Homo sapiens: one gene and its partners. The protein of the gene in region 1 interacts with the protein of each later gene in a biochemical or structural test. Each region holds a gene or a part of one and is shown in the gene's direction. Other genes may lie near its edges.

Evidence for each region. The genes of interacting proteins can lie anywhere in the genome.
Region 2: the proteins of PI3 (region 1) and KRT1 form a complex in vitro, tested with the Homo sapiens proteins (one study listed by BioGRID).
Region 3: the proteins of PI3 (region 1) and LORICRIN form a complex in vitro, tested with the Homo sapiens proteins (one study listed by BioGRID).

Annotation. Positions count from the first base shown.
Region 1 is NC_000020.11:45,168,885-45,177,535, forward strand, and holds PI3 (elafin preproprotein), read left to right. Parts: upstream 1-6,017; 5' UTR 6,018-6,038; coding exon 6,039-6,117; intron 6,118-6,976; coding exon 6,977-7,251; 3' UTR 7,252-7,252; intron 7,253-7,485; 3' UTR 7,486-7,660; downstream 7,661-8,651. UniProt on the Homo sapiens protein: Neutrophil and pancreatic elastase-specific inhibitor of skin. It may prevent elastase-mediated tissue proteolysis.
Region 2 is NC_000012.12:52,673,482-52,678,334, reverse strand, and holds the end of KRT1 (keratin, type II cytoskeletal 1), read left to right. Parts: intron 1-111; coding exon 112-172; intron 173-589; coding exon 590-685; intron 686-854; coding exon 855-1,019; intron 1,020-1,150; coding exon 1,151-1,276; intron 1,277-1,839; coding exon 1,840-2,060; intron 2,061-2,590; coding exon 2,591-2,625; intron 2,626-2,717; coding exon 2,718-3,142; 3' UTR 3,143-3,599; downstream 3,600-4,853. UniProt on the Homo sapiens protein: May regulate the activity of kinases such as PKC and SRC via binding to integrin beta-1 (ITB1) and the receptor of activated protein C kinase 1 (RACK1). In complex with C1QBP is a high affinity receptor for kininogen-1/HMWK.
Region 3 is NC_000001.11:153,254,457-153,263,378, forward strand, and holds LORICRIN (loricrin), read left to right. Parts: upstream 1-5,230; 5' UTR 5,231-5,277; intron 5,278-6,470; 5' UTR 6,471-6,493; coding exon 6,494-7,432; 3' UTR 7,433-7,668; downstream 7,669-8,922.

The DNA of each region.
Region 1 (8,651 bases):
ATTCACTACATACACAGAACTAAAAACAAAAATGTGATTATCACAACAGATGCAGAAAAAGGTTTTGATAATGTTCAGTGTTCCTTCATGTTAAAAACCCTCCACAAACTAGGCATTGAAGGAACATACTTGAAAGTAATGAGTCATTTCTGAAAATCCTACAGCCAGGATAATAGTAAATGGGCAAAAGCTGGAAGCATTTCCCTTGAATAACAGAACAAGACAAGGATTCCCTCTCTCACCTCTCCTATTCAACATAGCACTGGAAGTCCTAGCTAGAGGAATCAGGAAAGAGAAAGAAATAAGAAGTTTCCAAATAGGAAGAGAGGAAGTTAAACTATCCCTGTTTGCAGGCAATATGATTCTATACCTAGAAAACCCCATAGTTTCTGTCTAAAAGCTTCTTGATCTGATAAACCACTTCAGAAAAGTTTCAGGATACAAAATTAATGCACAAAAGTCAGCAGCATTCCTATATACCAACAAATCTAAGCTGAGATAAATCAGAAATGCAATCTCATTAACAATAGCCAAATAAGAAAAAAATTCCTAGGAATATAGTTAACCCAGGAAGTGAAACATCTTTACAACAAGAATTACAAACCACTACTCAAAGAAATAAGAGATGACACAAATAAATGGAAAAACATTCCTATGCTCATGGTTAGGAAGAATCAATATTGTTAAAATGGCCATACTACCCAAAACAATTTACAGATTCAATTCTATTCCTATGAAACTACCAATGACATTCTTCACAAAAGTAGAAAAAACTATTTTAAAATTTATATGGAACCAAAAAAGAGCCTGAATAGCTGAGTCAATCCTAAGCAAAAAGAACAAAGCGGGAGGTGACACATTGCTTGACTGCAAACTATACTTCAAGGCTGCAGTAACCAAAACTGCATGGTACTGGTACAAAAACAGATACCTAGAACAATGGAACATTACAGAGCCCAGAAATAATTAATGCTGCAAACCTACAACTATCTAATCTTCAACAAAATCAACAAAAAAAGAAACAATGGGGGAAGGGACTTCCTATTAAATAAATGATTCTGGAATAACTGGCTAGCCATATGCAGAAGACTGAAATTGTACCCCTTCCTTAAACCATATACAAAAATCTACTCAAGATGTATTAAAGACTTAAATGTAAAACATAAAACTATAAAACCCTGCAAGGTAACCTAGGAAATATGATTCTGGACGTAGAACTTGGTAAATATTTCATGATGAAGATGCCAAAAGCAATAGCAACAAAAACAAAACTTGACAAATAGGACCTAGTTAAACTAAAAAGCTTCCGCACAGCAAAAGAAACTATCAGCACAGTAAACCAACAACCTACAGAATAGAAGAAAATATTTGTGAGCTATGTGTCCAACAAAGGTCTAATATCCAGAATCTATAAGGAACTTAAACCAGTTAACAAGCAAAAAACAGACAACCCCATTAGAAAGTGGGCAAAGGACATGAACAGAAACTTCTCAAAAGAAAACATACATGTTGCCAACAAACAAATGAAAAAATGCTCAACATCACAGATCATTAGAGAAATGAAAATCCAAACAGTAATTGAGATAGCATCTCACACCAGTCGTTATAACATAACATATGCTGTCAAGGTTGTAGAGAAAAGGGAACATTTATACACTGCTGGTAGGAATGTAAATTAGTTCAGCCAGCATGGAAAGCAGTATGGCAATTTCTCAAAGAACTTAAAACAGAATTACCATTCAACCCAAGATATTCCATTAATGGTTATATACCCAAAGGAATATAAATCATTCTATCATAAAGACACATCCATGTAGTATGTGAATCACAGAACTATTCACAGTATCAAAGACATAGAATCAACCTAATTGCTCATCAATGATAGACTGGATAAAGAAAATGTGGTATGTAAACACCATAGAATACTACGAGTCATAAAAAAGAACAAGATCATGTCCTTTGCAGCAACATGGATGGAGCTGGAGGCCATTATCCTAAGCAAACTTTCACAAGAACAGAAAAGAAAATACCACATTTTCTCACGTATAAATGAAAACTGAACATTGAGTACATATGGACACAAAGAAGGGAACAATGGACACTAGGGCCTACTTGAGGGTAGAGAATGGGAGGAGCGTGAGGATCAAAACACGAATCGAGTACTATGCTGATTACCTGGTGATGAAATACTTCTGCACACGAACCCCCCCATGACATGAAATTTACCTATACAACAAACCTGCACATGTACCCCTGAAACTAAAATAAAAGTTAAAAATAAAACCCCAAAATTAGACACACAGTCTGTTCATGAGGCTTGATGGAAACAGCAGGCAAGTTTATCCACTACTGGTGGGATTACAATATGGTACAACCCCTATCAAGGGAAATATGGCAATATTATCAAAATTTCAAATGCATTTCACCTTTGTATAAGCAAATATACTTCTGGGAATCTGGTTCACAAGAAAGCAAGCTAAGAAAGGCCACATGTGGTATAGTTTGTAATGGCAAAATATTGGAAACAACTTGCGAGGGTAGCAATGTGGGTTTATTGAAAGCTAAGGTAGTCTATAAATGATTCGCTCTGCAGCTTTCTCTCTCTCTCTCTCTCTCCAAGCAATCAAAGAACTAGAACATTACTAATAACCAACAACTTAAATCAACCCGTGTCCTTCTCACCCATCCAGAATGTTTTCTTCTCTCGTTTCCAGAGTTAGCCACTATCTTGTATGTCATTTTTATAGTTTTTTCATTTTTTATGTATCCCTTTTTGAGCTTTGCTTCATATGTAAATATGCCTAGGCAATATATTTCCCAGTTCTCCTTCATTTGAGTTTTATGACAAGTGGGTAATTCTAAATATTGTCACTGTGGACTTGTGTTGTTTATTCAACATTATTTTAATTATGGTCATATTGTGCATGGCTGTAATTCAGTTATTTTCATAATTGTATAATACTTCCTTGCATTAATATGTCATGACATATTTATGCATTAATATGTCATGACATATTTATCCAGTATTTTAGTATTGGTAACATGGACTGTTTCCAGTATGTTATTGTTAAAAACAGTACTTTTATGAACATTATTGTGCATGTTTCTTGGTAAACATGTGGAAATATTTTCCTTAATTAAATCTTTAGGAGTGCAATTGCTGAATTATAGATTGTGTACACATTCAATTTTACTAGCTGATGTCAAACTGTTTTTAAATGTTTCACCAATATAGACTCTCATTAGTAATGCATAAAAGTTTCTTTTCTACTACAAATCAATAAGAAAAGATAAACAACCCATTCAAATCTAAAATAAAAGTTGAAATTAAATAAATAAGTAAATAAAAGGTAAGATACTTGAATTGGCACTTCACAAAAGAGGATAGCCAAATGGATAATAGAAATATTAAAAATGGGCCGGGTGCAGTGGCTCATGTCTGTAATCCTAGCACTTTGGGAGGCCAAGGCAGGTGCATCATCTGAGGTCAGCGGTTCGAGACAAGCCTGACCAACATGGTGAAACTGCAAAATATAAAAATTAGCTGGGCATGGTGGCATGTGCCTGTAATCCCAGCTACTTGGGAGGCTGAGGCAAGAGAATCACTTGAACCTGGGAGGTGGAGGTTGCAGTGAGCTGAGATTGTGCCATTGAACTCCAGCCTGGGTGACAAGAGCGAAATTCCATCTCAAAAAAAAAAAAAAAAAAAAAAGGAGTATTAAAAATGGGTCAGCTTCACCAGTTATTAGGAAAGTGTAAATTCAAATCACAGGAAATCCCACAAGATGTCCACCTGAATGGCTAATGAAAAGGCAAATCATATGAGGCATTGGTGAGATTATGGAGCAAATGGAATGCTCACACATTGCTGATAGCAGTGTGAATTGGTACAATGATGTTGGAAAATTGATTGCAGTATTTATGACAGCTGGATGTATCTATACTCTGTGATCTGTACTCTGTGATCCAGCAATTCCATTCCTAACCATATATCCAAAATAAATGCATACCTATGTTCTGCAAGAGATATGTACAAGAATATTCATAGCAACACTATAATAGCTAAAACCTAGAAATATCCAATGTATATTGACAGTAGAATGAATATATAACATTTTTGGTATTTTTCATAGAATACTGTACAGCAGTGAAAATGATGAACTACAGGTGTAGACTTCAAAATGGATGACTCTCAAAAATATAATGTTGAGCAACATAAGCAGGACATATGAACACTATACCTTAGATTTCATTTACATACAAATTGAAAAAGTATACTAAACTGAATATATATTTCAGAATACAGACAGAAGTGGCATAACTATAAAGGAAAGCAAGGGCTAATTACCATAAAATCTTAGGAAGCAGTTATCTCTGGGGAGGAAGGAGAATGAAGCAACTGAGGAGAGGCATGGAGCATAGATATAGCAAATATTCTCCTCCTTTACCTGGCAGCTCATTTTAATGCTATTCTTTAAAGAATATAGGTATTTTCTGTGAGCTTTTTATTTGTTTGTATGGCTTATTGTACAATGAGCTTTTGTGTAAGGTAGCCAAAGGCTTCCACAGTCTGACATTCGTTTATGTCTCCCTCAGTTTCAGGCTTGGTGGGCATGTGGTCAGAGTCTAAATCGACAAGGGGTGGGGATTTCACCAGCTGAATTAGTGTCCAATAATTAGTTTGTTACCTTCCCTGCCTTAACTCCACCTCAACTCAGTGACTTTCTTAACTCAGATTCTGTCCCTGACAATACCCAACTTCAGGATATTCATTTCTATTACTCAGAACTTTTGGTAACAATGACAGAATAGTAAGTCAGACTAGCTGAAGCAGAGGGCTAATTTATTGCCTCATAACCCAACCATGAGAAGGGTGTGTGAAGAACTGCTCTCAAGGTAAAGGAGGGAAACCTGGCTGTGTCATCTGAATCTTCTCTCACCATCACTTCTCTCCTTGTCTCAGTGTATTAGAGTCGTTTTTCTCAGACAATTGATCTCCACCCCCAGACTTAGATAACCACTTCTGGAATTCCCTGGTTCATATATATCACCTTTTCCAGAAGAAGGAACCCCCGTTTTCCCCTTTCATTACTCATTCAAATAAAATATGTTAATAGACCAGACCAAGTCTCACACACAACACACACACACACACTCACACACACACACACACACACACACCCCTACCTGTGGTCAGGGGTCAGGCTTTCATGATTAGCAGTCCCCATTAGACTCACAAGTTGATGGTTCAAAGAGACAACAATTCTTCACAAGAAACAGGGTGCTGTTCAAAGAAGTGGGGAGGCATGCTGGACACACACACTGTAGATGTCCAATGTATACATGATACATGTTTTCTACTACTTTCTGATTATTTTCTCCCTACCACTGTGATTTCAAGGGCATCATCCCTCTTCAGACCTAGAATTCCACCTTCCAATTACTTTCTTGATGCATCTGAAAGGCCGTCTCTGAAACAGCAAAGTGCAATAATTAGTCATTATGTATTCAAGGCAAATTTGTCTTACAGAGTTTTTTGCAGGACCAGGGAAGAAGGAAGGAAATGCCCAGTTTGATGCTGGGAGTGGTAAAATGATAAAGTAGATCTGGGTGGGGTTTGTAGCACCAGAGCATAATGGAGAAACACCTTGGTTTTGTAATCAAGACTGGATCTACCAGTGACTTGCTGAATAACCTTCGGTGATTCCTTTCTCTTCTTGGGTCTCACTGTATTTCAAAACATGAAGAATTTCATTGTAATGTTACCTAATAAGTGAGCCAGCACTTCTACTCTGTGAGAAAGTAGGAAAACTCTTGGGACAATCAGAGATGATGTGATGTAATGTCCATTAGTTCTTCCTGTGAATAATCCTGAGGGAAAGCCCCCAGGTCCCTCCCAGAATGGGGTGGATATTTCCCAATACAGCTAAGGAATTATCCCTTGTAAATACCACAGACCCGCCCCTGGAGCCAGGCCAAGCTGGACTGCATAAAGATTGGTATGGCCTTAGCTCTTAGCCAAACACCTTCCTGACACCATGAGGGCCAGCAGCTTCTTGATCGTGGTGGTGTTCCTCATCGCTGGGACGCTGGTTCTAGAGGCAGCTGTCACGGGAGGTGAGTGAACAGGTGACCTGCTGGGCTGGGTTGGACTAAGGGGAGACCCTCTGGGACACCCTGGGCCAGGACAGGGAGCACTTCTGAAGCAGTAGGCAGCACTGGAGCCCAGATTTCAGCTTTCTGTTCTTTGCCATCATATTCAGAAAAAATAGGACTTTGGCTGGTGGACTCCACGTGCTTTCCACCTCAGTGACTGAGATATCAGGACTGTTTGTGGAAGTAATGTTGGTATGTGGCCTTGGCCTCAGATGTCAATACCTGTGCAGAATGTGCAATAAAATAATGAACTCCAGGATTTTAAACCTTGGGTGTGGACACAGTCCCCCGTTTCTCTGCCCCATAAAAGCACTGGAGTAATCAGTACTCTAAAAGGAGGTTAAGAAACAACAAGCCTTCAGGAATCATGTTGTTTGAGGACCCCCATTTTATAAGGAGGGAACCAAAAATGTAGAAATGAGTGAGCAATTGCCAAGGTAATTCCCAGAGCCAGGATGGGGCTCAAGTCTCCTAGTATGTGGCTCAGGGTTCTTTCCTACTCCAATGCACTTCCTAACAAATGACAATGTGTCCTCTTCACTGCTGGGTGTCACCCCAGTCTGACCACTGCTCCTGAGAGACTTGGAGTGGAGGAAGGGGGAAGAAACAAATACTCAAGGGAACTCTGGTCCAGTAGACCACCCCAAAAAAGGAAGAGCCTTCCAAGAGTGTAGCTCCCAGAGGTGTACCTTCCCTACTCAGGCCATGGTTTGAGGATGCTGCAGTAAGCAGTGGATGGACCCAGACCCAGAGGAAAGACATGGCAGCTGAAGCAGAGGCTTACTGGGTATAAATGTGGGCTCGTTTCTTCTTTTAACAGTTCCTGTTAAAGGTCAAGACACTGTCAAAGGCCGTGTTCCATTCAATGGACAAGATCCCGTTAAAGGACAAGTTTCAGTTAAAGGTCAAGATAAAGTCAAAGCGCAAGAGCCAGTCAAAGGTCCAGTCTCCACTAAGCCTGGCTCCTGCCCCATTATCTTGATCCGGTGCGCCATGTTGAATCCCCCTAACCGCTGCTTGAAAGATACTGACTGCCCAGGAATCAAGAAGTGCTGTGAAGGCTCTTGCGGGATGGCCTGTTTCGTTCCCCAGTGAGGTGAGCACTAGCTGGAGAACGAGGAGACCCCTGAAGACACAAAAGAAGGCTGAGCGGTGGGGAAGCATCCCAGGTTGGTGGGAGGGAGGTTGTGGGAGGTGACAGAAAGACTGGGAGACTGAGGGGTCTGAGAGGCTATAACCAGAGTGCCTAGAAGGATGATCTGTCTTCCTCACTGCCTCTGAGTGCTTTGATGTGCTGACTCTCACCTCTGATACTCTTCTCTTCCACAGAGGGAGCCGGTCCTTGCTGCACCTGTGCCGTCCCCAGAGCTACAGGCCCCATCTGGTCCTAAGTCCCTGCTGCCCTTCCCCTTCCCACACTGTCCATTCTTCCTCCCATTCAGGATGCCCACGGCTGGAGCTGCCTCTCTCATCCACTTTCCAATAAAGAGTTCCTTCTGCTCCACTTGTTTCTGGTTCCTATGACTTCTGGGCTCCTGGATGCTTTGGGGAAATGGATGTAGAATTGGGACTTCTTCTCTCCAGTGAAGAGGGGAAACGGTCCCATGGTGAAAGAGAGCAGGGCGGGGGGAGGAAACAGGAGGCACATTGCTAGGGCTTCATATTACAAATCCAATAATCAGCCCCAGTGCTGCCAGCTCCTTTTCACCAGGAAATGGAAATATGGAAATCTTGCCTTTGGCCAAGGACCAGGAAAAACACAAAACACAAAAAATAAATAAACATTACATAAACCATAAGCAGGTCTTTTTTTTCCAATCCACCATCAGTCCTGACCTGGCTACTGTCGGCCTTACCAGTGTGACCAGCCAACCCTTATGGCTGCAACTACAGCTCCCCACTTCCTTCTCATTAATGTTTCCCAGGAATCTATATCTTTTCAACACCACATAGAAAGGATGATGTTACAGATGCTGCGAAACTCCTGCTCTTTAGAATTTCACTGGTTTATGCCTGAGATTCCTCCATGAAGTAGCATTCCTTTAGGTTAAGCAATATTCTCTTCCAGATTTCTGTTTTAAGATGTGAATGAGGAGGCAAGATACACTAAGTCCTTCATACTATGGTGTCAGAGGTTTGGGTGAATAGCATTCTCTGGAGACATACATGTTGGGGGCAGGGCAGACTTGAGTAGTGGAGAAAGGGGCAGGAATATGAGCAACCTCATGGCTCTCCTGTTGACCCACTCGTCCCACTGCGATTGCACAAGGAAACTCTCAGAGAAGGCCACAGCCCCCAGGAGGGGAGCAGCCTGGGTGAAGGGGAATAAGCACAGGCTTGACAGTCAGGTGATCTCAGCACTGGCTTTGCCTCCCCACGTATTGGGTGACCTCTGGCAAATGTATGTCCCCCTTCCAGGCCTCAGAGGTCTATTTCAGTTGAGGGGGTAAGGTATAATTATTCTGCAAAGGAAGGTCTAATCCTGCCACTCTGGG
Region 2 (4,853 bases), on another chromosome or scaffold:
CCTAGGTTCATAATAGAAAGGCAGTGATAGGCAATGCCACCTTTAGTTTAGAATGCTGGACTTCAGGTCTTACCACCTCTGAATCTCCTAATTGTTTCTGCTTTCCTGCAGGTATGAGGATGAAATCAACAAGCGGACAAATGCAGAGAATGAATTTGTGACCATCAAGAAGGTAAGCAAATTCTGTAGGACGGAACTCACATTTGAAATAAATAAGGGAAGAGGGTCTCCAATTACTAAGCAGAAAGCAGCCATGATATGGAGAGCCAGGTAGTAGACCTGGGGAGTATATGGAGTGGGGCTATATTTTCACATCATCATGGACCTGGACTGATCCAGGCACTTGGCTTCTCCATATTTCCCAGCACCTTACATAGTAAGTGGAGTGGCAGATTCTCAGCAAGCCAGGCACACTCCCTTGATGGTGCTATCCGGGGGTGGGACAGTTAGGGAACTGTGATTTACCTGGGGCAAAAAGGAGTGGAGTAGACCCAAAGCTCCTTTTTTTGCTTGGAGAATCCCCTCACAGGTAATGAGAGGGACCTGCCCTGGAGAGAATGTGCCTTCATGATGTCCCTTGTTCCTCTAGGATGTGGATGGTGCTTATATGACCAAGGTGGACCTTCAGGCCAAACTTGACAACTTGCAGCAGGAAATTGATTTCCTTACAGCACTCTACCAAGCAGTAAGTCTTCCAGTTTCAACCAAGTTTATCTAAATGGAGAGTTTTTAAGCCTGAACCCACAACGATTCAGAAGAATAGATATTTATCTTTTATTTTCTGACTGCTTTCTCTGTCTAAGTTGTTTTTTGTTTTAGTGCTGTAAGAGTCACTAACCTATTATGTCTTGCAGGAGTTGTCTCAGATGCAGACTCAAATCAGTGAAACTAATGTCATCCTCTCTATGGACAACAACCGCAGTCTCGACCTGGACAGCATCATTGCTGAGGTCAAGGCCCAGTACGAGGATATAGCCCAGAAGAGCAAAGCTGAGGCCGAGTCCTTGTACCAGAGCAAGGTGAGTGGGCTGAAAGCCTAGCCAGTTTCCCTGAAATGGCTTGTCTTGCTATCCTGTGTTATCTCATGTATGTGTGCCTGTGCCATGCTGAGTTCTGCCTACATTTAACAAACGCTATCTACCATCTTTAGTATGAAGAGCTGCAGATCACTGCTGGCAGACATGGGGATAGTGTGAGAAATTCAAAGATAGAAATTTCTGAGCTGAATCGTGTGATCCAGAGACTTAGATCTGAAATCGACAATGTCAAGAAGCAGGTATGTGCTTTCTCCTTCTACCACTCAGCTGTATGGAATGGGGGTAACCCTCAGGTAAAGGGCGAGTGCTTTCCTAGTTTTGAATCTTGCAATTCATCCCAAGGCTACATTATTATCCCTGGTTCCTTTTGTGACTATGCTAGTTTCCAGAATGCAGCCATCATGCTGGGTTCTCTTTAGGGAAATCTGTGAGAATGGCCTAGTAGAGAAAGATGGGATGGTCAATGTGAGTGATCTAGCCTATGACCCAAAGTGGACTTAAGAGTTGGGGAGTGAGAGGAAGGGCAGCCAGGAGGTTTTAGAGTAGGTGTTTAGAAGAATGTCAAGTCTGTAAGGGTTGTAGGAGCCTTGACTCAGGGCCAAGAGAGGCTGTTGAGTTATCCCTAAGGTCTTTTAAGGAAGTCAACATGGTGATGTGTTATCTGGAGGTGGGTGTGAGATGACTTAAGGCCAAGTGGTTCTGTTGGACTCATTATTGGCCTCACTGGAGTGGGGAGACCAATTGGGATGAGGAGGCCTAGTGGGGAATGCATATTATGAGAGGGTGTCATATTCTTTTTCAGATCTCCAACTTGCAGCAGTCCATCAGTGATGCAGAGCAGCGTGGCGAGAATGCCCTCAAGGATGCCAAGAACAAGCTGAATGACCTGGAGGATGCCCTGCAGCAGGCCAAGGAAGACCTGGCCCGCCTGCTGCGCGACTACCAGGAGCTGATGAACACAAAGCTGGCCCTGGATCTGGAGATTGCCACCTACAGGACCCTCCTGGAGGGAGAAGAAAGCAGGTGAGGAAGGGACGCTGGGAGTCGAACCTCTTCTCATGGTCTTCCTTCCTTGCAAGCTGATTGTTGTTGAAGATGCAGCCATCTGATTGCAGCTTGTGCTGGGTATGGGGAAATGAAAAGTACACGGAGCAGGAGGAAGGACCTAGTTTTACTTTGGGAGCTGGAGTCCCAAGCTGTTTATTTTTTTCTTCTAGGGCTGTAACATATCTAGAAAGAGCTTTGAGGTGGAGCAAATTATTCTTTATCTGGGCTGCCTCAGATGGCAGCTGGCCTAAAGTCGGCATCTTTAGAGGGGGCCTTCATTGGCTGCAAGGCTCTTGTCTCGTTTATATGGGAATTTCTCCGTGTTTGTACTCTTGCTGAGAAAAAATGACAGGTCTGGGAGGCCAGAGGGGATTGGATTAAGTTTCAGATTAAGTGCATTGGAGAAGACCCAGATGGGGAAAGTCTTCAAGGTGGTGGAGCGGGGAATGGGGAAGCGGTTTGGGAAGCTGGAGTGTCCTGAGGAATTTTCTTATTTTCTCCTACAGGATGTCTGGAGAATGTGCCCCGAACGTGAGTGTGTGTAAGTACAAGTCGATTTCTCAGGGGCATGTGCAGGCTTTGTTGGGCTGGAAACGGAGTTGAGGTTGAAAATAACTGAGCTTCCTCTTGCAGCTGTGAGCACAAGCCACACCACCATCAGTGGAGGTGGCAGCCGAGGAGGTGGCGGCGGTGGCTACGGCTCTGGAGGTAGCAGCTATGGCTCCGGAGGTGGTAGCTATGGTTCTGGAGGTGGCGGCGGCGGCGGCCGTGGCAGCTATGGCTCCGGAGGTAGCAGCTACGGCTCCGGAGGTGGCAGCTATGGCTCTGGAGGTGGCGGCGGCGGCCATGGCAGCTACGGCTCCGGAAGCAGCAGTGGGGGCTACAGAGGTGGCTCTGGAGGCGGCGGCGGCGGCAGCTCTGGCGGCCGGGGCTCTGGCGGCGGGAGCTCTGGAGGCTCCATAGGAGGCCGGGGATCCAGCTCTGGGGGTGTCAAGTCCTCTGGTGGCAGTTCCAGCGTGAAGTTTGTTTCTACCACTTATTCCGGAGTAACCAGATAAAGAGATGCCCTCTGTTTCATTAGCTCTAGTTCTCCCCCAGCATCACTAACAAATATGCTTGGCAAGACCGAGGTCGATTTGTCCCAGCCTTACCGGAGAAAAGAGCTATGGTTAGTTACACTAGCTCATCCTATTCCCCCAGCTCTTTCTTTTCTGCTGTTTCCCAATGAAGTTTTCAGATCAGTGGCAATCTCAGTCCCCTGGCTATGACCCTGCTTTGTTCTTTCCCTGAGAAACAGTTCAGCAGTGACCACCACCCACATGACATTTCAAAGCACCTCCTTAAGCCAGCCAGAGTAGGACCAGTTAGACCCAGGGTGTGGACAGCTCCTTAGCATCTTATCTCTGTGCTGTTTTGGTTTTGTACATAAGGTGTAAGCAAGTTGTTTTTCTTTTGTGGAGAGGTCTTAAACTCCCCATTTCCTTGTTTTGCTGCAATAAACTGCATTTGAAATTCTCCATGTCTCGATCGCCCTTGTTTACGGCACTGTCTAACCTGGATGGGTGTTTTGTGAGGTAAAAGAAGACACTAGAGCCACATGGCATATGGGAAAGTCATGCACACAAACATGAGAAAAATGCAGAGGCCAACCAGGCAACATTTCACCAGACTGGAATCACAGAGAGAGCAAGCACTTTCCCAGATGGTGGGGATGTCATGGAGAAATGGAGAGACCGGGTGACAGGTTTTGTTCATTTGAGAAGGCTTTCTTGAAAAGGGCAGTGAGCAAGCAGGTTGGGAGGAAGAGGTGTGGCATTGAGAAGAAGGGAAAGTATTGCATGAAAAAGTAATTCTTCACGTGGAACAGCCAGTAAGGAGGGGCATGAGTAATATAGGGTCAGCAGTTACTGGAGCCAGAATACAGACTTTGGCCTGGGGAGTTCAAGAACTAAGAGTGGTAATAGAGAGTTGGATATTCCATTTCCCTTCTCTTTTTGTGCCACCACCCAAAGCTCTGCATAATCTAAGAAGTTCCCTTGTTGACACATAGCTCATACTTGTGAAGTTGTACAACAGGATAGCATAGTGGCCAGAAGCATGGACAGTTGAACTCAGATATGCTTGGGTTTGAATCTTACCATCACCATTTACTAGTTCTGTAATACAGTGCAAGTTACAGACATCTCTGCACCTCAGTTTTAGTATGTCTAAATTGGGGATGATAATGCCTTCCTTGTGGGAATAGTGTGAGGATTGAATAAGATGAATACACAGGGCTGAGCACACAGCAAGCACTAAATAAGTGCCAGTTTTAATGATAATGGTGATGATGATGATGATGATGATGATGACGTAACATTGCTTGTGGGACTCCATACAGCTCAGTAGATGCTTGCTCAAAGAAGCAAGTTACCAAAATTTTTGTAATGGTTCTCTGAACGTGAAAAAAGCAGTCAACTTCTCTGAGGATCAATTTCCTTAGTTTCCAATTAGGAAAAGTCTTCTTAGCTCCAGAGTCCCACAGGGCTAATGGAATAAGGAGAGGATAGATCACACATGTATTATGCAAACACAACTCAGGTGAGCTCTATTCTTCCTTCTCAGTTATCCCTTCTGTAGGGACCCCAGTGTCCCCTGCTGTCTTTCTGTGTCCTGACCGGGAAACACAGTGTGCCTTGTCTACTCCATCACTTGGCCAGCTGCATGCTTTCCTTTGCAGGCTTGAAGCAAAGCTGGGTCTCGGGCATTCTCAGGCACTGACAAAGCTGT
Region 3 (8,922 bases), on another chromosome or scaffold:
GGATTGAACCTATGTGACAGTGGTCCATAAACTGAAGAGTCTGTCCACAGAGGAAGTGTCCAAGCCCAGGCAAGCATGATCCCTGGATGCACTGCTAACCCTGTGTGCATCTATAAGCTGTTTGAAAAGGTCTGAACAACTCATCTGTGGTCCCCACCCTCAGCAAAATGATGGGCTCCAGGAGCACCCAAAAGAGGACCAAGTAAGAGTCAACACTGCCTGATAACACCCCAGGGGGCTATAAGTGCTCTTTAAATCCTAAGATGCAGAGTTAAGAACTAATAGGGAGCCTTCCTTCAAGGACAATTATAACTTGAAAAAAGAAACAAGTCAAAGCGATGTGTCATTAGCAGACCGTAACTAGTACAATTGTTCCTTAAGGCCTTGGAAAGGGAAAGTGGTGAGGGAGATGGAACCAGTGGGTGTGATGAATCCAGGGAAGCTTCCTGGAGAGGGAACACCAGTAGCCACGAACCACTGCAGAGCTCTCCTTCTCCTACCCACCTCTAAGCAGTTCTCCCCATGTAACACCGAGGATCAGCCACCCCTTCAAACTGTTGGCCCAGAAGGGCAGTAGAAAGGAGGAAAATGGCAGCCCAGGAGGTACCTGGAGTTCTGTGACACTTCCTGGGCCAGGACTGTGAGAGAAAACTGTTCCCATTCCAAGTCAACAGTACAAAGGGCTTCCAAGCACTACTCCTGTCCTGCCAAAGCTCCCAAGCCCCTGTCCTGTGTTCATTTTATTCTTTACAGCCACCTGCTGCCCCTTTAACCTGTTAGATAAGTAGTCAGCACTCAGTCATGAGAACCCATGTGTGTAGCTCTGGATACTTCAAGGTTGTGATGAGCATGCTTCCATCCAACTGGGGCTCACCAAGCTCAAGAAATGAAATCTCAGACTGGGGCCCAGGAGCCAGGTGCCTCTACTCAGAGAAGCAGCCTTCTCAGAGTAGTTTGCAGCTGCTCTTTCCTAAATCCCCCCAACATAGCTTGTTAAGATGGCCAAGCTGTGCATCACAATGCGGGAGGCCCTCACACTGTCTCCTCTACCTGCTTCTCTCTTGCTCTGAAGATGCCTGTAGCAGGAAGATGTGAGCTTCCCACAAAGATAAGCTAAGCTGAGATGCAGAAAGAACAAATCTCCAACTTTTTTGTGATTTATGAATCAGAAGCTGGGTTGTCTCCAAAGGATGCATCTGTGATTGTGGATAAGCCCCAATGTGTCCTTAACACCCTAGACTGCCACATCTTTCTGAAGAATCACCACCCTTCACACACACACACACACACACACACACACACACACACACACTTCCTATACGGGGCCTTCCCATCAGATAGATATTGTGAGGGTGGTCAGGGAAGCAGGCTAAAATTCCACTAGCCCAGTGTTAGCCCAGTGTCACTTCTATAGCTGGCCTTGGATCCCCTGCACAAGGCTTGTTCATTCTGCACAGTGGCTAGGTTTAATCTGTAGTTCCATGCTGAAACCCTCCACTCCTCATCATCTGACAAGATCATCTCTCAACCGCAGTCAGTCAATAGGTCTCAAGAGTTCCTTCAATTCCACTGGGATTTACTGAGCACCTATTAATGCCCAGCACCATGCCAGGCACTGTGTAGCATCTGCTTTAAGGACCATCCCCTCTAAGGATACAAGTATAGGCAAGAACCATGTCCTAATCTGTCAAACTGCAGAAGTCAAATGTGCTATCAAGCACACCTTGCAGGGTTAGGTGTCTAAAGGCTATAAACCTTAAAAATCTGAACTGCCAAGTCTTACAAAACCCCAAATACCTATGTGTCATTCTACAATTCTACAAAGTCCCATTATTTCCTCACTGATATGATAAAAGGTGATAATCAGTTGCTGCCCACACAGATATCCCATTAGGACTACTGCTTCTGCTCCAGAAAGATGAAATGAGAAACCAGGTTCATATATTCGTATATCAGGCAAGGTTAACTCAGGGCTGAAAGCCACAAGATCTGGTACTCAGTATCATGTCACATCAACCTCTTCTGCATGTTAACGAAATATTTATACTAGTTACAAGTTATATATATATATATATATCTCTACAGATATATCTCTATATATATGTAACTCTATATATATATAACTTGTAACTAGTACACATATTTAGTTAACATGCAGAAGAGGCTGATGTGACATAGTTATATATACATATATGACTATATATAGTCATATATGTATATAAAACTATATATAGTCATATATGTATATAAAACTATATATAGTCATATATGTATATAAAACTATAGTCACATATGTATATAAAACTATATACAGTTATGTATGTATGTAAAACTATATACAGTTATGTATGTATGTAAAACTATATACAGTTATGTATGTATGTAAAACTATATACAGTTATGTATGTATGTAAAACTATATACAGTTATGTATGTATGTAAAACTATATACAGTTATGTATGTATGTAAAACTATATACAGTTATGTATGTATGTAAAACTATATACAGTTATGTATGTATGTAAAACTATATATAGTTAAATATGTATATCCTTTCTTATTAAATGCTATATAGGGTGGCAGAGGCAGGCATGGGGCACCATCCCCACCCGCGACTCTACCAAAAAGACCCATGCATAGCTTTGGAAAGCCTTCTGGCTCTTTGATGCTTAACATGGTGCCCAGTACATTTGTTTTGGCTGGATTAACAAATAAAGAATTAGCATCTTAAAATTAATAGAAAAAAAAACCCTATATTTCTTAGAAGAAAATGAACCCCCCAAAGCCAACATGGACAATTTGAAGATTAGTCATTTTGGGTCAACTGTACTTTAGGTTCCCGTTTTGTTTATTTTTTGAGACAGGGTCTCACTCTGTCACCCAGGCTGGAGGGCAATGGTGCAATCTTGGCGCACTGCAGCCTTGACCTCCCAGGCAGAAGCGATCCTCCCATCACAGCCTCCTGAGTAGCTGGGACTACGGGCACATGCCACCATGCCCAATTAATTTTGTTTATTTTTTTGTAGAGATGAGGTCTCACTATGTTACCCAGGCTGGTCTCAAACTCTTGGGCCCAAGCGATTCTCCCACCTCAGCCTCCAGAGTAGATGGCACTACAGGCGCATGGCACCACACCTCGTTAATTTTTGTATTTTTTGTAGAGACAGGGTCTTGCCATGTTGTGCAGGCTGGTCTCAAACTCCTGGGCTCAAGCAATCCTCTCACCTTGGCCTCCCAAAGTGCTAGAATTACAGGCATGAGCCACTGTGCCCGGCCTAGTTCCCAAATTTTAGAATTCCATGGAGAAGTAATATCTCCCTCAGAAAAAAGTGGTAATCATTACACCATAGCCAAATTTTCATTTTGACATGGCAGGACATAAAAGAAACAACTACAGCCTCATGTCACCACATCTTTTAAAGGAAGAGGTAGGAAGGCCATGATTTCAGAATTGAAGACTTTCTTTCCCAAGAATACCCTGCTGACGTCCTTTTACTTACACTTTTGCTAAGGACTGGTGAACACATAGCAATGGGCCAACAAGGGACCACACATATCAGTACTGGGAACCGTCGTCCACACGTGCTCCTCTTTCCAATGTGGCCCAGCTAAATAAAACTGTTCTTTCTTATACCCACAGCAATCACTAATCGCGGCCTGTTTCCCTCCAAATTCTCCACACTGCCTCAACTTCAAGCAGAGAAACTTGCCTTCTCCAACAGATCCTGTCTTCTCCCTACTGGGTCTCCTCTAAGGAGGAGAGCACCTGAGTTCCTCTTGGGTTCACCTGGGTTTATGCTGTCCAAACTGAAACTAGTGCCACAAGTTTCTGATGGCCACAGTCTAATCAGGATCATCTGGATCATTAAAAGTGCACTATAATTAAGAATTTATTATTGGAGCTGTCATTTCAAAACATAACTGGGCAGAACAAAGTTTGACTGTGGTATCTTAAACAATACCAATTGACTTCCGGTTATGAAAGAAGCAGCATCCTGTTCTGCATGCGCAGAGGTGATGCTACTGGTCCAGAGTCAACAAGAAAGTTTTGAGTTATTCTCCTAGGAGAAGAATTGGACTTGCCCAATCCCTCCATGGACTCCTTTCTGGCCTTGGTATCCAAGGGAAGGCCAGGTTGGAAGTAAGGATGTGCTGTTATATGAGAAAACAACAAAAAAGACAGCATCACCTTCTACACTTAACATAACTATTCTCCCTTCACATGCCTGTGAAATAGGTACTACTATTTTTATTTGATAGACAAGGTAACTGAGGGTCAAAAAGCTTGATCATTCCACAGTCAATAAGTACTTACTGAGTGCCTCCCATGTGCAGGTACTGCACTAAGAGCTATGACTCTGCCCAAGGTGACACAGCTGGCAAGTAGCAAAGGGAGCACCCAATCTGTCACCTAATCTCAAGTCTATCCCATTCAATGACTGCCCCTCAGGCTAAGGTCAGTGTTTTGCCACACAACACCACAGGACAACAGAGCCAAAGAGCCTTTGTGGGATCACATGGTCCATCTCTTTAGTTTGCTCTGCTGCAAGGAAAGTCAGTATTGATTACCCTTCTCAGACTGTCTCAAATGCCTGCTGTCTCTGGGGATGAATCAAAGTAGCTTCCCACGTCACATTAGTTACAGCACTGTCTATGGTGTGCAGTCCAGAGCTGGGTGCTGGGGACTCATGCCTCCAGTGGGCAGGACAGAAACACCCCAGCAAAACACACATGAAATCCTGGGAGATAAACTTTTGCAAAGGAGTAACGGGTTCTAAAGTTTTGAGGATTTTTAGAGTAGCAGGACCAGAAGTCAAACAGTAGGATTTAGAAGGTCCTACTCCTTGGATAAAGCACTGAGATCTTCAGTTTGACTCTCTTAGGGCACCTCAAGACTCTGGGACCTATTCCTCAAGCACAGCCCTGTGGTCACCTGGTATGCATCCTGTGCCAGAGGTTTTGGAAACAATGTCTGCCATCCACTCTGACTGGGTGACCCCACTGATGAGCCTGCCACACTGTTGCATCAGAGAAGGGGCCAGTCACACACCAGGCTGCCCATCTCAAGAATGCCAAAACCTTCATGAATGGGCCATCCTGTGCCTGCAATCACAGGGAGGTGGGGCCGACAGCCACGGGTCACGTAACTGAGGCCAAACACAAGAAGCTGGCCTGGATCAATGAGTCAGGGAGAGCTCTATATATAACCTCAGGAGATCAGTGCTCCTCACATTGCCAGCATCTTCTCTCCTCACTCACCCTTCCTGGTGCTTTGGGTAAGTGTGGTTCTACTGACTCTCTCATTTTCCCAGCTGGTCTTGCCCAGGCCTGACTAGATTAGATGGACCAGGGCCTCTTTCCCCTTTGGGAGCTATAGGACCTCTGCCTTCCCAAAAGCACTCACATTTAGAGGGCGGTCAGGAAAGGAGCAGGGGATGAGCTGCTGCCATGCAGATGGTGTTTCTGGTCTTCTGGCCAGAATGTAAACTCCACAAAGACAAGACTATCTCCTGCCTCTCTGGCACCCGCATAGGGGCAGGCATGGTGCCGGGCACAGAAGGACTCTGCAGAGGCTGTCCAAGGCAGCCTGTGCACAGGCTGAGCAGACCTTGTGAACCTGTCAGGAGGAGAGGCTGAGCCACTCTCAAGAGAGTAGGGAGAATGATCCAAAAAAGTTGCAGATGGGAGGGATTTCAGGTGCCACAGAAATCCAATTGCTGTTTTACAGAGTTAGAAGTTCTGAGAGGGAAATACAACTTCCTACTAGTCAAAGTCCCTTCTACCAAACTTGGACTTGAGAAAATCATGGAAGAGATGGCTAATAGCTTCTGGTCGGGGATGTTGGTCCAAAGGACCACCAGGGTCCTTCCCCTGTTTCCAGGCAGGGCCACAGCAGAGCCTGTCTTTTCTAGTGACTAGCCCTTGGTTCATGGCCTAGCTCAGTGGGACAGACCAAGAGTTTGAACTAAGAGCTTCTGCAGAGGATGGAGTGCAACAGCCCTCAATAGAATGAAGTCCGACAAACCTCTCTCTGTTGTGCTGGGAATGGGTAAAATCTCCTATCCTAGGTAGAGGTTTGTGGTAGTTTTCTATTTGCACTCAGAGAATCAGTGTTGAGATTGGAAGAGGCCTGAAAGATGAAGTGTTCAAACCCTTTCATTTAACAGGAAATGAGAAAGAGGCGGGCGTGTGGGTGATCTGCCCTCAAATCACACAACAGTGGTCAGAGGCAGAGCTGGGAGAAAGAATGGGCACTGCTAACTGGGCTGTTTAAAGCATAATGAAGGCTTTCTGCAGGGGAATGAGGAACTCAACTTTTCCAAAAGCAGCAATCATAAGAAACCCCGCTGAGGGCTCTCCGGGCACCTGAAGGAGCCCTGGGAGGATGGCGATGTTGCCTATGGATGCAGCTGCCTCCGTAAGTATCCTCTTGCAGCTGGTCCAGCGATGCTCTCTTCTCCCCTTCCAGGCTCTCCTTCCTTCTCAGACAAGATGTCTTATCAGAAAAAGCAGCCCACCCCTCAGCCCCCAGTGGACTGCGTGAAGACCTCTGGCGGCGGTGGCGGTGGCGGCGGCAGCGGCGGTGGTGGCTGCGGCTTCTTCGGCGGCGGCGGCTCAGGGGGCGGTAGCAGCGGTTCTGGCTGCGGCTACTCCGGCGGCGGTGGCTACTCTGGCGGCGGCTGCGGCGGGGGCTCCTCCGGCGGCGGGGGCGGGGGCGGCATTGGAGGCTGCGGAGGGGGCTCCGGTGGGAGCGTCAAGTACTCCGGAGGCGGCGGCTCCTCCGGCGGGGGCTCTGGCTGTTTCTCCAGCGGTGGGGGCGGCTCCGGCTGCTTCTCCTCCGGTGGCGGCGGCTCCTCCGGGGGCGGCTCCGGCTGCTTCTCCAGCGGTGGGGGCGGCTCCTCCGGGGGCGGCTCCGGCTGCTTCTCCTCCGGCGGCGGCGGCTTCTCGGGCCAGGCGGTCCAGTGCCAGAGCTACGGAGGCGTCTCTAGCGGCGGCTCCTCCGGGGGCGGCTCCGGCTGCTTCTCCAGCGGCGGGGGCGGCGGCTCTGTCTGCGGCTACTCTGGCGGCGGCTCTGGCTGCGGCGGAGGCTCCTCTGGCGGCAGCGGCTCCGGCTACGTCTCCTCGCAGCAGGTCACTCAGACCTCGTGCGCGCCCCAGCCGAGTTACGGAGGGGGGTCGTCCGGCGGCGGCGGCAGCGGCGGAAGCGGCTGCTTCTCCAGCGGCGGGGGCGGCGGGAGCTCCGGCTGCGGCGGCGGCTCCTCCGGGATTGGCAGCGGCTGCATCATCAGTGGCGGGGGCTCCGTCTGCGGAGGTGGTTCCTCTGGAGGCGGCGGCGGCGGCTCCTCCGTGGGTGGCTCCGGGAGTGGCAAGGGCGTCCCGATCTGCCACCAGACCCAGCAGAAGCAGGCGCCTACCTGGCCGTCCAAATAGATCCCCCAGGGTACCACGGAGGCGAAGGAGTTGGAGGTGTTTTCCAGGGGCACCGATGGGCTTAGAGCTCTCATGATGCTACCCGAGGTTTGCAAATCCTTCATGTCTTAACCTACCTGGAAGAAGCCATTGAGCTCTCCGGCTGCATCTAGTTCTGCTGTTTAGCCTCTTTGGTTTCTGTACAACTACCTCCCAACCCCAGTGCCTCAGTCAATAAATTTGCAAATTCATGAGAATTTTTAGGTCTCCAAGAGTATTTGTAGTGTTCAAGTTCATCCATTCCATTCCATTCTTCTCCTTTCCTGCATTCGCTCATTCACACTTACATTCATTTTACAAATGCACGGACTCTATTGGCGGAAAGGTGAGTGGATAGATGGGAGTCACCAGGAGAGGGAGGAATGGCTGGCAAACGAAGGTCAAACATATGAACATTCTAGTGTACGGCTTAAAATCATGACGTGATCCCAAAACACAAAGATCCTGAGGAGAGACTTCAGTAAACACCTCCCTGTGGATTGAGTAGCTACTGTGGGTCTCCTTACTGAACTCTGTTTTTTAAAGACAGGCTGCCCTGGAAAGACGCTGTCTCTCACAGTCCAAAGCCAATTCTGCAAGGTCTGAAAGCTGGGTGGCTGCACATTAGGAGCACCAGCTCATGCTACTCAGACTCACGGAGAAATAAAAAGCATATCAGATGTTTACGGGCCCCTAGGGTGAGCAAGACCACTTTAGTAGGTACCCGTAGGGAGAGGAGGTAGTAGGGGAGCTGTTTCCTGCTCTCTCACTCTCTCTCTCGTTTTTTTTTTTTTAATTTCAATCAGCTTTCTCGGGTTGAATGTTTCCTGCTCTCTTGAAGGAACTTTACCTAACTTAGGAAGATGCAGCATACATATACGAGATGTAAAAGCTTGGCACCAGAAAGAGGTCATGGAAAACACAAGAGCTTCCAATTAACAAGGAAGAAGCGACAGTTGCTCCAAGGGATGTATTAATTGCAGAGCCCTCAAAAGAGATGTAGAACATCAGCCTGGCCAGGGACTTTCCAGGTTCTGTTTCATATCCTGATTTTACCAGCTCTAGTTAAATGCCAATTTACTGATTTACTCAAGAAAAACTCCTGCTACGTCAAAAAGCCAAAGTACCCTTCCTACTCAATCACTGCTGGGGGGAAAAAAAGTCTTCCTCCTCAACTCTTCCATTTAGGATCACTACCATGCATCATTTTACATCGGTAATTCATGGAGATCAGAATAAATAGCAGTCTTAAAGATCCAGGAGCCCAACCACTGCATTACTTTCATGTTTTTTAACAAATGAAAGTCAGACTTTCAGTTCTGGACAAAATGAAGTAGATGTATTTCTTACTATCGCTCTTATGAAGTAGAACTAAAATCTCTGGGCATAATATATAAAACAAACATAAGAAGACTTTGTAAGCTGGGTGGCTGCACGTTAACAGCACCAGCTTATGCCGTAAACATCTGATA